Regions from separate parts of the Homo sapiens genome. Here region 2 is linked to region 1. The links come from fine-mapping of genetic effects on gene expression. Tissue or cell type: blood mononuclear cells. Region 1 holds a variant in brackets; the other region holds the start of a gene. All regions are shown on one strand. Distances are between the middles of the regions.

The links. PIP is the estimated chance that this variant, and not a neighbour inherited with it, causes the effect.
Region 2: CCDC85A starts here. The variant in region 1 is fine-mapped to the expression of CCDC85A in blood mononuclear cells (TOPMed, PIP above 0.99).

What each region holds. Positions count from the first base shown.
Region 1 is chr2:56,334,841-56,343,022 of GRCh38, reverse strand. CCDC85A (coiled-coil domain containing 85A) reads right to left here. Exons shown (of 6, transcript NM_001080433.2): 3 at 68-144. Among named protein-coding and RNA genes, the nearest start is that of CCDC85A, 150 kb to the right of the region's middle. The variant A/T (reference allele first, on the strand shown) is at 4,605.
Region 2 is chr2:56,180,437-56,188,618 of GRCh38, reverse strand. It overlaps CCDC85A (coiled-coil domain containing 85A), which reads right to left and starts at 4,629. Exons shown (of 6, transcript NM_001080433.2): 1 at 3,719-4,629. The coding sequence starts at 3,994. LOC100129434 (a long non-coding RNA gene) reads left to right here and starts at 2,849. Exons shown (of 3, transcript NR_125368.1): 1 at 2,849-2,921. RefSeq lists a silencer at 4,630-4,959.

The sequences.
Region 1 (8,182 bases):
AAATTCCAAATAAAATACTACAACTTAAATGGCACTGACTAGCTATGAGCTTCTGGAAGTCACCCACCTGGGGCAGCATGCGATTTTCTTCCTCCAGCTGTCTTACTCTTGCCTCCAGCTGCCTAACATAGGACAAGGTTGATTCTAAAATTAAAAAGAAAGAACTCACATTATACACACAGGTCTTGTTTGGTGTACTGTCAGGATATTTCTGGCTTGATTTATTCAAATCAGACAGTGACTATTTAGTCTGTTATTTAAAATGAGAAAAAAAAATATCTCCCAGAAAAATAAGAACAGAAGCCACTGAAACTAAAAACAGTTTTGAACAATTTTACAACGTTAAGAAATATTAGATAAGACACAGACTGGCATATTTACAGGTGGTAGTACACACAATTGACGATTAGTATTAAGATTCTATACAGAACTCTTACAAACCAATAAGAAAACACAAGTAAAGGTATGGAAAATATTTGTCAGAAGTGGAAACACACTAGACAAATAAACCTAAGAGAAGCAGTCCAACATCATTATTAATTAGTAAAATCACGCACACTTAGAACAGGGCAAAACCAGAACTCAAACCTGAATCTAATACCGAAATCCAGTCTCTCCACTACTCTAAGCCCTTTTAGCTATTTTTAATCACTAAGAATTGAGACATTTCAGAGGAAGACTTTTAAAAATATTTCTGAAGTTTGATCCTCTTAAGATGGAACAAATATTTTTCTGAAGTCAAATCGTTTTCCACAAATCTTTCTTAAATGTTTAGTATTTCCTGTTCTGCAATAAAGTGTATTGAGGTCAATTTAAAAAAAAAAAAGTATTAGAGAAAATTATAGGTGGTGAGACTGCAGGCTTTTTGCACACCAACCAGCCTCAGAATAATAGGCATCTTGAAGACAATTATACTCTTTTCTTCTGATTTTGTACATTTTGAGTTGTCAATGAGTTGTTCTACATATACAAGACTATTTTGTAATGTTAACTATAACCAAAATAAACTACAAAGCTACATTAAAAAAAAAAACAGAAAATAAAACAAAATTTTTCAAACATCCAGTTCTCTTTATTTCTCCCAATAAAAATTTCAAGACTTAAGAAAAATATTTGTTCTTTTCACAAACTTACAGACATTGACAGAAAAAACATGAAAGAGCTATTTAGAGTTAGAATGAATTTTGACTGATTTTGGCTGACTGTGACAGAGACCCAAGTTTTTCACACATCTTTAGGTAAACCAGGAGCAGACCTGAAATTGACTATTTTTTTCATTTCTTCACAAGCTCAGGCATGAGCTGAAAGCTCAGAATCATTATCATGCTTAGCTTCTGTTCCATACTGAACTCTAAAGTTTATGGCTTTATGTCAGGAAAAGGGGTCACAGGTGAAGAAAAGTAAAATTTTATTTCTGGGAACAATCTGATAGTAACTCTTCTTCATTAAAGTGAAAATATTCAAGATCATCACATAGTAGCAATTCATTCATCACACAACAACAAAATATTTCAGGTGCAGTGAAAGGTACACAGCAATAGACTTTCTCCAGAGCACACTTCTGTTACATTAGGTAGCTAGTCAAACATGAGCAAGGCAGGAGAGGGCTCCCCGCAAGCCCACCCACCAAGAATGTCAGGCAACCATCACGGGATAGTCAGGTGGTTGTTAACTGTCTCTCTAAAATAATAATTAGTTGCAGTCAACCCAATAGATAGAAAAAACCTGGTACTGTTGATTACCACTTCCCCAGTAAGATCTCTGGAGTTGGGCGAGTGGTCTCAAGCGTGTGTACTAAGAGGAAAAATAGCAGTTTAATTGGTATATGATCTTCCTCTGGAAATGCGAGACGGCTAAGGGAAGAATGCCTCAAGTGAGCGTGCATACATCTTCAGTAAACACACTGCACATGCTCCCCTCCCAAGAGCTAGCAGGCCACTGCACATGTGGACAGTTCATCTCAAGGGAAGAATCAGTGTAGAAGGGACATGAAACCCCAGAAGTACGCCAATGTATAAAACCCAAGTCAAAAGGTCAAACAGTGCACTTGATCTCTCAAGTCACCCACCTGACCCTGACTCTCTTCCAAATGTACTTTACTTCCTTTCATTCCTGCTCTAAAGCTTTTTTTTTTTTTTTTTTTTTTGAGATGGAGTTTCACTGTTGTTGCCCAGGCTGGAGTGCAGTGGCGCGATCTCGGCTCACCACAACCTCCGCCTCCCAGGTTCAAGCGATTCTCCTGCCTCAGCCTCCCTAGCAGTTGGGATTACAGGCATGTGCCACCACGCCTGGCTATTTTTTGTATTTTTAGTAGAGACAGGGTTTCTCCATGTTGGTCAGGCTGGTCTCGAACTCCCGACCTCAAAAGATCCTCCCGCCTCGGCCTCCCAAAGTGCTGGGATTACAGGCATGAGCTACCACGCACAGCCATTCTAAAGCTTTTTAATAAACTTTCACTACTGCTCTAAAACTTGCCTCGGCTTCTTCTTCTGCTTTATGCCCCTCAGTCGAATTAGGGGCAAGAACTGGGGCTGCTGCAGACTCATATGGTTTCGCTACTGGTAACACTTCCATAGTTAATATTGAAGCAGAACAACCTCCTCAGTGTTCATGTTCTTCAGCCTCAGACACACAAAAAGGGCAAGAGGCAATACGGTAGTGCACCTAAGTGTTTGGAGCCCCTAAGGATCCACAGTTAGGATGGATATTGATGCCCTGATCTGAATTTCATCATGGAAACACAATTATTTTATGTGGAAATAGTTTATATGAACCCAATTCTATTTTTATGACCTCTAAAGCAATGAGCTAACACTTTATTTTCTAAAATACATAAGCATCAGTCCTTAATTCACAAATACAACAATTAAGCTCATCTCTGACTAGCTTAGAGCAGGCCTGTTTTCCAAAATAGTGTGCAGAAAGCCCCCATCACTGACATTAACATGATGACCCACAGACCTCACACCATTGGAGACAATTAGCTTTGAGCATTTCTCAAATAAGAAAATAGAAACACAGGTAAAGAAAACTGAAGATATTTGCTAAAGATATCCTCTCATTTTTTTAGCTTAATAAAATCTTAAAACTCTGCTTTATGGACTCTTCCAAAGAGGGGAAAAGTATGCAGCATAAATGAATAGCAAAGTTATTGATTTCATGAGTCTGCTTTACTCTTGCAAATGAATTCAGTGATTTGCAGATCATCAAGATGTGAATGTAGATTGCCTGATTTACACTGTTTTGCAAGCCCTGCTCTTTCCTCTGGAAAAAAAAAACCACTTGATAAGGCCATCCAAGTGAAAAGTTCATCAGCAATATTCTATTTAAACCACACAAAAATAAAGTTATTTTCTTTTTTGTTCACAATTTACACCTTATCTTTATTGCCCCTATGCTGCACTATCTATAAGGCTGTGATACTTAAAGCAGCTGAAAAGACTACACAGATTGAGTCAGGTGAAATTTGAAAAATGCTATTGAACGGAATTTGTTTTAATTCAGTGACTGTCTTCAATCCCTTCATCTATTTCTCTTTTCAAAATCTTTGCAGTTTATATATCTGATGTTTTCACCAAGTCTCTATTTATATTATGAAAGTATTATGTCAGTTCAGGAAAAAAGGGGTAAATTCCTGAGTTTGGAAAATATCCTCTCTCGTTTTTAATGTTGAATTACAATAGATCATGTCCACATCTTTTTTCTAAAGCATTCACTGCAAATATGGGCTGGGACAGGAAGAGACAGAGCATAGTTTTAAACAGGTGAAATAATGAAAAAAAATGGCTTTACAGTGAAGGCAAAGGCAAAAACATTTTAAGTTCATTCATTCAACAAATATTTATTGTGTCACTGATTTGTGTCAGGCACTGTTCTAGGGTTAGGATGAAGATAAAGCCAGTTATTGCAAACCTTAATAACTTTCTCAGAACACACATTCCCTATTAGATTACAGGCATTCCAGAAGGTCCTGTTAATTGTTCCAGGTTCTTAGCCCCTGTTGCAATTATTACTTAACAATTAATGGATACTCAAACAAAAATACACTCTTCCTGGGGGTAAAACACAGGAAGAATATCTGATCTACATGTATAAATAAGAGTACTCAGGCTGTTTTGTTTCATTCAGAAAGAAACTGATTACACCATCCTTTAATGGGAGTGGAGTAGAAAAATATTTTTCTGGAATATACTGTGAGATCAGCACTGGGTCCCCAAGCCCCTATAGGAAAAGCCATTAAAAAAAAAATCCAATCTCCCAACTGTGACATGAGAAAAAAAGAAGAAATATTTGTTTCGTTAAACCCTTGGGATTTTGAGGTTTGTTACTTACCATAGGTCAGCTGAGCCTGACTAGTAGTGCATAACCAATAATTAAATTTTTTAAAATGTAAGCTATATTTTAAATAAAATAGAATAAAATAAAGTATAAGAAACTCAACACTTTCTTAAAAAAAGTCACATCCAAATCCACATCTCAGTCATAGCTAATCATTAGGAAAAATTGATAGAAACTTCTCATGGTGAGAGGAAGAGAAGAAAGAAGCCTTTTGGGTACTGGAACACATTGACCACATCCGCTGCAACCCCCTTCCCCATGCTGCT[A/T]TTTCCCTTTTTTGTCCTTTTTCAAGGGTGTCAACTATAATATAAGGTGATCTCCCGGTACACTCAGGGAACATGATGGATAGCTGTACCTAAGGGAAGTGTCTAAAACTGGCATTCATTTTATCATAAAGTCATTAATAGAAAGCTGCATTTGAATGTACCATAATTTAAATTGACCATTACATTTTATACCACTGGCTGACAGCTTCATAAAACTGAGATTTCAGAATGCCATTTTTGGCTTTTAGAACTCTGAGAATGAGGCTCCAAAAGAGCATCAAAAAACAGCCAAATTCTCAGCTACAAAGTACATAAATATATAATGCATTAAAAAAGGAGCTGGCTAGGTGGCTCAAGCCTGTAATCCCAGCACTTTGGGAGGCTGAGGCAGGCGGATCACGAGGTCAAGAGGTCGAGATCATCCTGGCCAACATGGTGAAACCCTGTCTCCACTAAAAATACAAAAATTAGCCGGGCATGGTGGCAGCTGCCTGTAATCCCAGCTACTCGGGAGGCTGAGGCAGGAGAATCGCTTGAACCCGGGAGGCGGAGGTTGCAGTGAGCGGAGATCGTGCCACTGCACTCCAGCTTGGGTGACAGAGCCATACTCTGTCTCAAAAAAAAAAGAAAAAAAAAAGGAGCCTATATTCAAGAAACTTATAAGCAGTTGGGAGAAAATAAAAGGGAAAAAACAATAAGGTAATTTGAAATTTAGTACTAAATCCTGTGAAAGGGGAGCAAAGAAAAAAATCAACATTGGCAGTAGTTCTTACGAAGGAGAAACTGAAGCTTAAAATGCATCAATAGAATTTTGATAGGCCAGAGAGATATGAGTGGAGCCACAGATGGACCTGGGCCAGAAGCCAAAAATGATCCTATTGTAAACACAGAAAGAAAGGAATCACATGACGGAAAAGAAAGGGACATGCAGGTACAGGAGGAGAGGCCAGATTATTTCCCACAGTCACCTATCTGGAAAAGCAAATATCAAATCACGATAATCCAGTGGCAATTTGCTTTAAAGCTCCCAAAAGTTATTTTATTTCTCTTTCCACCCTGGGAAACCTATGGGCATCTAGACATTAGAAAAGTAAGGTGAAGCAAACGATATTGATGTGAAAATCCAATGACATCCTCAAGATGTTCTTTGGGTGAATCTCAGGCCCATTTTCAAAGCAGGAACTATTCTTTGAACCTATGTGTAAAAGTTCACAGCATCTGTTGCAAGAAAAACAAATTAAGAAACATGCATAAAAATTCCATTAAATTCCGCATCTTCTAAATTCAAATTTTACTGGTACTACGTACCTTAGAGCTTTTCTAATTCAACTTCTGCCACAATCCTCTGACTTGTTTTGCAAATAAGAGAACTAAAGCTCAGAGTGCGATGAACTTGGTTGCTAACAATGGGGACTAGTCAAATATATTCAAACAATTGTGTTTCATTACTCGAGCACCACATTAATTCTCATATTGGATCTACTAATCATGAAGTAACATACATAGATAAATACTAAATTCTTTTTTTTTCCTCCCTGACTTTAGATATTCTTGATGGATTTACCTTTACAGTAACTTGATATTTCCTCAGACAATATTCTTGACTTGATTTCACTTCAGCTAACCTGCAATGCATTCAATTGTATAAAGGAGCTCTGTTCGTTTTCTCTGTTAGTTTGAAAACACTCTGATAAAAATATGAAACCCTCTTTACTTCCCTTTTGTTTCTAAGGCAGTGTTACCCTACAGAACACCTATCCTTGAAATCACCCACAAATTACACTGATGATTGTATATAAAAGGTTTATTATTGGTATTTGCAACTGTCTAAGGTTTGTCACACCTCTGAGTGGTTTTGATTAGATGAAGTGATGTCATCTCTCCAAAATCTCAGGGCAGAAAATAAAATCTGGTAATGGTCCATTCTGACACAAACTACAGCATTTTTAAGAGTGTATAAGAGGAGGCTGGGCACACTGGCTTGCACCTACAGTCCTAGCACTTTGGGAGGCCAAGGCAGGCAGATCACCTGAGGTCAGGAGTTCGAGATCAGCCTTGACAATATGGTGAAACCCCGTATCTACTAAAAATACAAAAATTAGCCAGGTGTGGTGGTGCATGCCTGTACTCCCGCTACTCGAGAGGCTGAGGCAGGAGAATTGCTTGAACCTGGGAGGTGGAGGTTGCAGTGAGCTGAGACAGTGTCATTGCACTCCAGCCTGGGGGGACAAGAGTGAAACTCCATCTGAAAAAATAAATAAATAAATAAATAAAGAGTGTATATGAGGAAAATTATCTGGAAGACTATAGTGGCCATGAGTTTATAGATGTTAGCTTTTATGTGGCTCTCTAAGAATTAGTCTCTGTGTTGGCTTGACTGTTTATCCCTTTCAAAAATCATGCTGAAATTTAATTGTCATTGTAACAGTATTAAGAGGTGGGACCTTTAAGAGGTGACTAGGCCATGAGGGCTCCACCCTCATGGGTGGGATTGGTGCTCTTATAAAAAGATGAGTTTGGGTCAGGCGCAGTGGCTCACGCCTGTAATCCCAGCACTTTAGCAGGCTGAGGCAGGCGGACCACGAGGTCAGGAGTTTGAGGCTAGCCTGGCCAACATGGTGAAATCCCGTCTCTACTAAAGATACAAAAATTAGCCTGGCGTGGTGGCAGGCACCTGTAATCCCAGCTACTCAGGAGGCTGAGGCAGGAGAATTGATTGATCCTGGGAGGCAGTGGTTGCAGTGGGCCCAGATTGTGCCACTGCACTCCAGCCTGAGTGACAGGGCAAGACTACTTCTCAAAAAAAAAAAAAAAGATGAGTTTGGCCCCCTCTTGCTGTCTTACCTTCAGCCATGACATGATGTACCAAGAAGGCCCTTACTGAATACTAACCCCTTGATCTTGGATTCCTCAGTCTCTAGAACTGTGAGCTAATAAATTTCTGTTCACTATAAATCACCCAGTCTGTGGTATTCTGTTATAGTAGCAAAAAGTGGACTAAGATAGTCTCTCTCAGCAAAAGAGGCCAATAGCCACATGCTTTCCAATTCACAGACAAACTTTTCAATAAACCCCAAGCGCTAAAGGCATGGCTTGCACTCATTCCATATGAATCCCACTATCCACAGGCTTTTTCACATCCCTAAGGAAATTACGTCAGAACTGTGTATTTTAAAAATTATTACTGTTCTGAACAAAGTGTTTTTCTTCTTCAGGCAAGCAAAGGTCAGCCTCCTACTTAGAATCCATATTAACTCCACAAGTATAAGTGATTATATTTCTCACTAAAATTTGACGCTTTTCTTATTTTAAAAAAAATTTGTTGGAACCAGCACTTTCAGATTTGCCTGGATATTTAATTCATACTGCCTTATTAACAGAAATAGAATTTTTAATGGGGCTTTAATTGCCCTAAATAATCTAAAATTGATATCAGATTTTGCCCTAGTCCACTATTTATGAAGCAAATTCTACTCTTCTCAGACCTTTTTCTCTCTGCCTACCCAAAAGAGATGACAGTTAGTTCCTCTTCCCCTCCTCCCATGCAGAAATCCTTTCAGTTTGTCTTTGGCCCAGAG
Region 2 (8,182 bases), 150 kb after region 1:
CTAAGCTCCAAAAATTATTCAACATTTAGTTTAATCCTGGCATTTGATAGAAAGCTCAAGTCATGTTCTCTTTCATCTAAACAAATTTTCATAGGAAAATACTTCCCTTTGACTATGCTACAGCTACTTCTGATTTCTCTAGAGCTGGAAAGTAAACAGGACTGGTGCTACCCTCGGCTTCACGGAGCTAATGCCTTTTCCAAAAGGAGTGAAACATACACTTCTCAGCACTCCAGATGGAGTAGATAGGAGTGAGTATTGGCCCACTCCCATTTCTATATCACAGTTCCCTCTTTCTATTATTAGTTTTCTTGAGAATATTATTTACTATTCAGTTCTGAGCTATTTCCTTTGCCTTCTGATGAACAGCTAAGCAGCCAGCTTGATAATAACCTTGTGATCCAGCTTCTTCAAATCTGCCTCACTAAGACTTGGGCTTTCTTTTGCAAAACACTAGGTGTCCTTTTAACATTGCCACCGGCCACCAGAAATTATCCAAGTGTCTAAGTGGACTTTTAAAAGGTTAAGTCCACTTCGTAGCACACCAACCAAAATTTCAATCTTATGCCTGAAGACTATCAAGTACTGTATCTACAGTTAAATAATTGTTTTAATTTGTTATTTTGCTTCACTGCAGAGCAGGGTGGTGGGCGGGTCGGTGGTTGGGTTAGGAACCAAGGAGGGAAATTAATGCAATGAAGAAAACAAATCTACAGAGATTCATCCCGAATCAGCCCCCAACTGGGATACTGGGTCAGAGCAGCCTGAAGTGTTGGTATATGCTCAGCAGTCCAAAGACATGGTTCTCAGGAATCCAGTTCCTTACAACATAACCCTAACTAGAATCTCCCTCATCCACCCCTTCCAGGACCACACATTCTAAGCAAAGAATGTCAACTAGCCAAAAGAAAAGGAAAGCAGGCCGATTTTGAACACTTTATGTCTGTGTGACCTTGAGAAAACTATCTAACTTCACTGGGGTTTCTTCATCTATGGTATATTTCATCCTCATAAAACCTCATGTGGAATTAAAATCCCCATGAGCAGATGAGAAAACCGAGAGACAGAGAGTTTAACAATTGGCCAAAGCTGCCCAAATTATCAGAATCCAAATTCTTTATCTTTCCACTTCTCAGGGCCCCTGCACTGCCCTGCCTCCCAAATATCTAAACACAAACAAGTCAATCAGTGCTAGGACCCGGCCACAGGCCCCTGAAAAGTAAAGAACTGATGCTGCCATCTCCTGTGTCCACAGCTACAATAACACCTGGTAGCCTTACAAATATTTAGATGCAATTTCAAAGTCAGCTCATAGAAAGAGGCATAAAAAAGAAAATGTATTATGGTCTTAATTCCCCTACATTTATAGTTCTCAACTGAGAATGCCAAGCCCTCAGACGCTCCCCCACGCCCTTAACAAAAAAAAATACTTCTTTTCTTCCAGTTAAGCCAAAATAAATATATGTACCCATCATTTATTCAATCAACCACATTTATGGATTACTATGGTGTCCAAGGAAGCTCTGAGCCAAAATAAAAAAGAGAAGGGAGAAGGCTGGCCTCTCCAAAGAGTAAAACCACAGCACACCCAGGGTGGGCCAGAAGCCTGGGAGTCCGCTCCTTGCAGCAGCCCAGGGATGACATGAGAAGAGTAGAAGCTGCATCAGAAAGCAACCTGCCCCCATCATTTCTGAACTTGATAAGGAAGTAGACTGGCAAGTCTTTTAATGCCAGGTCATGAATCTAGATCACAAGGAGACTTTCTTACTTGGGTGTACGGGCCTTTAGCTGACCTAATAGCTACTTCTCTACATGAAGCTACTGGAATGAAGCCCAGGCACTCTACCAACCCACTCTACCATTCCCCTCCCCTACCCACACACAGACATCACACACAGTCAATCCACATAACCTAAAGGAACTTTCAAGTGTTTCTGAGCTATTATTTTGATGCTCCATACTATTAAAACATTTAATAATAACTCTTCCAACTCTTCTAAATCACACTATTGTTCAGACCATGGAAGAAACTCAAATTAGAGGATGACAAACTAATGCCCCCTTGTCCAGCTCTGCCTAAGAAACCAAAATCTTGGGGACACACAGCCATAGATTTGTAAGTCCTTTCCTGATGACAGTAACTACCATTTTATAGTCAAGTATTAAACCTTCCCCTACATAATCATAACTTATTGCCATAACACCCTCAGAAAGTTATTATCATTGCATTGTATTGGTGAATAAAAGGAGGATCTGAGAAAGTAATTACCCAAGCTCACCCTCCTGGCAAATGAGGTTTCTAGAATTCAAACCCACCTCTGAGATCATCTTCCTACTACACTAGCCTGCCTCTATTCCCCAAAGAGACTGGCACTTAATAAACACTCTGTTAGTAATGAATTCAACCACAGGAGAGAGTAAGCCTTGGCATTTTTCTGACTGGAGGAATCTTCCTACCTGCACCCACTCTAGGGACTATATGACAATGACTTTCGGCCTCGGGAGACGGCCATCTCCACCTGAACTGGGCCCAGCACATAGGTGAGCCTTGAGCATTCCACTCTTCCCACTCTTTCTTGCCCCAGAATCCCAGAGCTGGAGCACTGAGGCAATTCCGGAACAGCATCTACTGTCTGATATGTGGGGATAGGAGTGGAAAGGGGAAAAGAACAGCTTGTGCCTTCGGGAATTTGCTCCCTGAAGTCCCTGCAGTGATTTCGTTTGTGTCTGGCTTCCTACAAACAAAGCAGAACAATGAGAGGAAGGAATACCAGGAGGCACCAGCGCTAGCTGGAAGGAGAGGAAGTTTGTGGTGCTCGCCAGCAGGGCGGTTCCCGGCCACTAGTGTACTGCAGCTGGGCAGGCACACTCCTCGCAGACCCGGCGCTCTCCAAGGAGAAAAGAAAGTTAGTGGGCTTGGGGTACGTTTCCCTTCTTTTCCTAGAAGAGGGTGGCAGGGGGGCTGGCTCAGAAAGAAACCATCACTGACCAACACTTGGGGTACTCTGTCAAAATGCTGCTCCTTCCATACTGAGTCTCTTTGCTCCTCCTCTTTCCCCCAGTCAACCTGGGGTTAAGTGGGAAGGGGAGTAAGGCAACTCCAGGGGATGCCTTCCAAACTCCGGGAGAGGGAAAGCACAGGAATTGGGAGAAGACGTGAAGGCAGAGCTTGAACTCCTATGTACCCGGTGACACAAGACTGCTCTGAGGGTGGCGCCCGCTGCTTCTCCCGGGCGCCCCGCCAGCCGCTCTCCCTGGCAGTGGCGCCCTTTCCTCGCCCTCTGCCCGCCCAAGAGCTGCTGGCCCAGAGCAGCCGCATTCCCGACCCTCCAAGGCGAAGATCCCCTGGATTCACCCCCTCACTGGCCTTTCCGCCTAACTGACTGAAACCCGGCTCCCCAGGCACAGATTTTCCAGCCTCCCTAAGAAATGAAAGGTTCGCGTGCCCTTCACCTCCCTCCCTGCTTTCCAGCGTCCTCAGCGCCTCCCCGAACAGCCAGACAGTGGAGCGCCCCGTGTTGGGGAGAGGAGGGGAGCAGACGCCTCCGAAGTTTGGAAAAGTTACACAGGGGCTGGGGACTGGGGGTAGGGGGTGCCGACCGGGAGAAGGGGAGGGTCACCTGTTGAGGGAGGGAGGGAAAGTTTGCCTGGCCCCGCCTCCTCCTCGGGGCACCCCGCTCCCAGCCGCGCCGCGCCTCCCCACCTGGCCCGCGCTCACCTTGAGGCCGCGGATCTCGCCGAGGTGCAGCTGCAGGCGGCGGTTCACCTCGCGGATGAGGTTGCTGTGGTCCAGCATCGCGCTCACCTTCTCCGCCTCGGCGCGCCGCAGGCTGCGGATCAGCTCCTCCTTGCTCCACTGCAGCAGCTCCTCGTCCGACACTTTGGACAGGTCCTCCACCGGCGCGGGCGGGGCCGCGGACGAGCCGGCCGGGGCTGGGGAACAACTTTCCGCCGCCGCCGCAGCCGCCGCCGCGCCTCCGGCCGCCTTCGACATGGTATCCGCGGGGTGGCAGGTGCAAGTGGGTGGAAGAGGCGAGGCGACTCCCGAAGGCGCGGGCGCGGCGAGGCCGCCTCCGCCCACACCCCTGTGCGCTCCGGCGAGTCAGCGGCACCGCCCAGGGGCCGCTGGGTTGGGGCGGCGGGGGTCGCGCTGGGTGGCCATCCTACCTCGCCATCCCCGCGCGCGCGCCCGCGCTCCCCCAGGGCCCGGCAGCCAGCCGCTTGCTGCTGCCGAGGCCCGTCCCAACTCCGCGCAAGTCCATGGTGAGGGGCACTGGGGAGCCCGGGGCTGCCGCGGGAAATCCTCGGGGACAGCGGGGGAGCTGCACCGCCGTTCCCCTGCCCTCTCCTCCGCCCTAAGCCGAGACTGTCGCCCCCCGCACTCTCTGCCCTGCACACAGGCGTGCACGCACACGCACTTTCCTCCCCCTTGCCCAGCTGCAGCCCCCGGCTTCTCCCCTCTCCTAGCTTGGAGGGCGCGCCGGGCACCGCGGCGCCTCCCCGGCTGCTCTAGCGACGCCGCCGCGGCTGCCCGAAGGCTGCTGCGCTCCTCCTGCCGCCTTCGCTGCGCCCGCGGCCGCTCCTAGGCTGCTCCGGAAAGCCTTCGATTTGCAGAGCGGAGTCGAGAAGGGGTGGAGGGTGGGGGACCGGCTGGAGGAGGAGCCTGGAGCTGGGGCCACCCGTAACCCGCAGCAGCTCCCGCATGGGCTGGACGCAGCTGCCACTCGACCGCTGCCCGGGCCCTCGAGGTGCGCTCCCGGCTGTCCTGCCCGGGAGGGCTGGGGGCGCGGCTCTTTCTGCGCCCGGGCGGGTGGGGCTGGAATGGGGAGAAGGTGAGGAGCTGTGGCCGCCCGGTCTTTGGGAGGCTCGCGCGCGCCACCGTGTGGCGGAAGAAGCTCCCTCCTCTGCCCTCTGCACACCGGCCTTGTCACCAGGCAGGGGAAACAGCTGCTGACCCAAATGCGAGGTGCTTCGTATTTGGAGGGATCGGGGATCAGGAAAGATGGGGTAGCAGGACCTGAGGGATAACCAGTTATTTGCACTTTGGAGAATGGGAGGAGAGGCAAATGGCAAAAACGGGGGTTGGGGAAAGGGGCAGCTTAAGAAAATCCAAATGGTCTGAAAAGGGCGAAAAGAGGCGTCAGGGCACTGCTCTTATGGGGCTACCCATCCCCACCCCCCACTCTCGCCCCACCCCTAGGCCTTTGTGTTTTCTAAAAATCCACTACTCTATGAAGAAGCTTCGGGAGAAGGTACTGGATCTTTTAAATTTTTATTTGAAAAATATCAAAGCCTTTAGGCGAAAATAAAATACCTTCATCTCCTGCTTCCTGAAACCTGGATTTTAAGGTCAGCACAGTCACCTCCCCTCGGAGCAAAGCAAGCCCCCTCAGGCAAGCTGAAATGCCAGCCAAGGAGATTTCCATTTTCTTCTATGCCGCAGGCTGCCAGGCGTTTACTGGGTCGGCTTTTTTATGATGGTTATTTCTGGAAGGAGGAAGTCTGAGTCCCTGGCTTCTATCTTTGGGCTATCCTCTTGTAAAGTTGGGTGGAATCGTCTCTGGGCTGAAAACATGCTTTTGCCTAAAGAGGTGGATGCCCTTGACCACCGCATGTTATTTCCAGTGGGGTACAGGGCCGGAAAATGGCAAGGATCTACCCCCACCGGGTTTCAGTTAACCCGGGTGCAGAGGGAATAATCTCTATCTGGTAGGATGATAATCAAAATCAGTCCCTTCACCCGCCGGTCAGTGCGTGTCCCCTATTGGGGACACTGAGACCTGGCTCCCGGGAGAGGCAAGGAAATGTGGTACTGCTTACGGTGACCAAATGGCCTTAACATTCCCCTCAGCTTAACTAAACTTTAGACAGGTTTCTTCCTAACTGTAGGCCCCAGACCTTCCTTTTCTCAGAGCATTTACTTTAGCCAACTTCCATTGGTGAATGTTTCCTCTGACCCTTTGACATGTAAATCTCTCCGCCTCTTGCTGGGTTTTACAGCCTGGGGATCTTTCTCAGGGATCTGTGAGGCATCCCTTTGAAATGTAATCATCAAGGAAAAAAGGGTCCCTATCTCCTAGTGTTTGTGGAGAGGAGGAGCCTAACTTTAATAAGTTCCAATTAGGAAACACAAATGGCCTCATTACACTGACCAACTTCCCATCCTAATCTCCTCCACTAGTCTTCTACTAGTTCCCCTCTCCCTCCCTCTCTCTCTTCCCTATTGCAATAGCCTTGAATAATTCCCCCTTGTCTGTTTAACTATATCGGATGCAATTTTTCTTTGACACCTCCAAGCCGCTCTCACGCCCACAGAAGGCTCTGCTCAACACAGTTCCTAAGACCAGTTTTGTCACAGAAAGGGAAAGTGAAGGTCAGAAAAAGATAAGTCCTATCTCTGTTACTTGTTAGTTCTTGTCCTTGAACAAACCATCCGACCTTACTGGCCCTCGGGCAGCTAATGATATGGTATACAAGAAGCGCTTGATCGAGCCACCCTACAGAAATGCAACCTTACTATTACTGATATTACATATTACATTGGGCAGCCTCTTGTCTAGAAATAGGAACCAGGACTTCTGTTTATTCCTCCATCACGGGTTCTTCAAGAGTCGTATTCTAAAATGAAACAGCCAGCCCCCTTCTCTGCTAACTCCCTCTGATCAGTTAACACCAAATAGATATGAGAAATCAGAGAGATGGCTGAGAGGAAAAATTAGACTTGTGTTGGGAAGACAAGGAAGAAGGAAAGCCAAAAAAAAAAAAAAAGTCTCCACAAATTATATACACTAGCAGTGGATTACAGTTGAGCTAGATCACCTTAAGGTTTTCATGTTTCTAATTTTGGTCATTGATTCAGAATAATAATTATCTGCATGAATGAATAATGTTGCTTCATGTTGCTAAGGTCATGTATGGTGTCAGGAGCTTCATTTGACTGCTAAAAACAGAAACTCAAAAAACAGTCACTTTAAAAAAGTCATTTATTTTTTCTCACCTACCTGGTATTCTAAAGAGAGGCAGCTGAGGGCTGGTATGGTATCTTCATGAGGTCGTCAAAATCTTAGGCTCCTTCTCTCAGCTCAGTCCCCTTTGGGATGATTGCCTCGTGTCCATAACATGGTTGGTGGAACTCTAGCCATCCAGCTACGTGTAAGGCAGGAAGAAGGTAATAACAACTGCAAAGGGGCACATGCCCCTTTAAAAACTTTTCCTGGTGGCCGGGGGCGGTGGCTCATAACTGTAATCCCAGCACTTTGGGCGTCCGATGCAGGTGGATCATTTGAGGTCAGGAATTCAAGACCAGCCTGGCCAATATGGTGAAACCCCATCTTTACTAAAAATACAAAAATTAGCTGGGCATGGTGGTGCGTGCCTATAATCCCAGCTATCGGGAGGCTGAGGCAGGAGAATCGCTTGAGCCTGGGACGCGGAGGTTGTGGTGAGCCAGGATCGTGCCACTGCACTCCACTCTGGTCGAAAGAGTGAGACCCTGTCTCAAAAAAAAAAAAAAAAATCCTGGTAATTGACCCAGTGAATTTTGTTTATGTTCTAATAGGCAGAGCTTACCATATAATCACCTCCCAGCTGCAAGGGAAGCTAGGACAGTGTTTTAAGTTGGGTATATTAAATGGAGATTTCTGAAAACCAGCCATAAATGACCCTACGTCTTTAGTCCTGATGGTTTTATATCATATAATTTTCTTCAGTCAACTCTATTTCCCCCCAGCTCACTGTTACTCAGCCTAGGTTCTCACTAAGTCTCACCTGGCCCTTCTCACTGGTCCCTCTGACTACTGCATCACCTCTCTCGAATCTGCTTTCCACACAACTTCCCAAGTGAATCATCTCAAAAAGTCAAGTCTAGCTACTTTACCCCTGAGACAGATTGAATTATTGCTGATAATTTTTCACAACCTCCCTACAAAATTAATTAACATCGGCCAGGTGTGGTGGCTCACGCCTGTAATCCCAGCTCTTTGGGAGGCCAAGGCGGGTGGATCACGAGATCAGGAGATCTAGACCACCCTGGATAACACGGTGAAACCCCGTCTCTACTAAAAATACAAAATATTAGCCGGGCGTGGTGTCGGGTACCTGTAGTCCCAGCTACTCGGGAGGCTGAGGTGGGAGAATGGCGTGAACCCAGGAGGCGGAGCTTGCAGTGAGCCAAGATAGCACC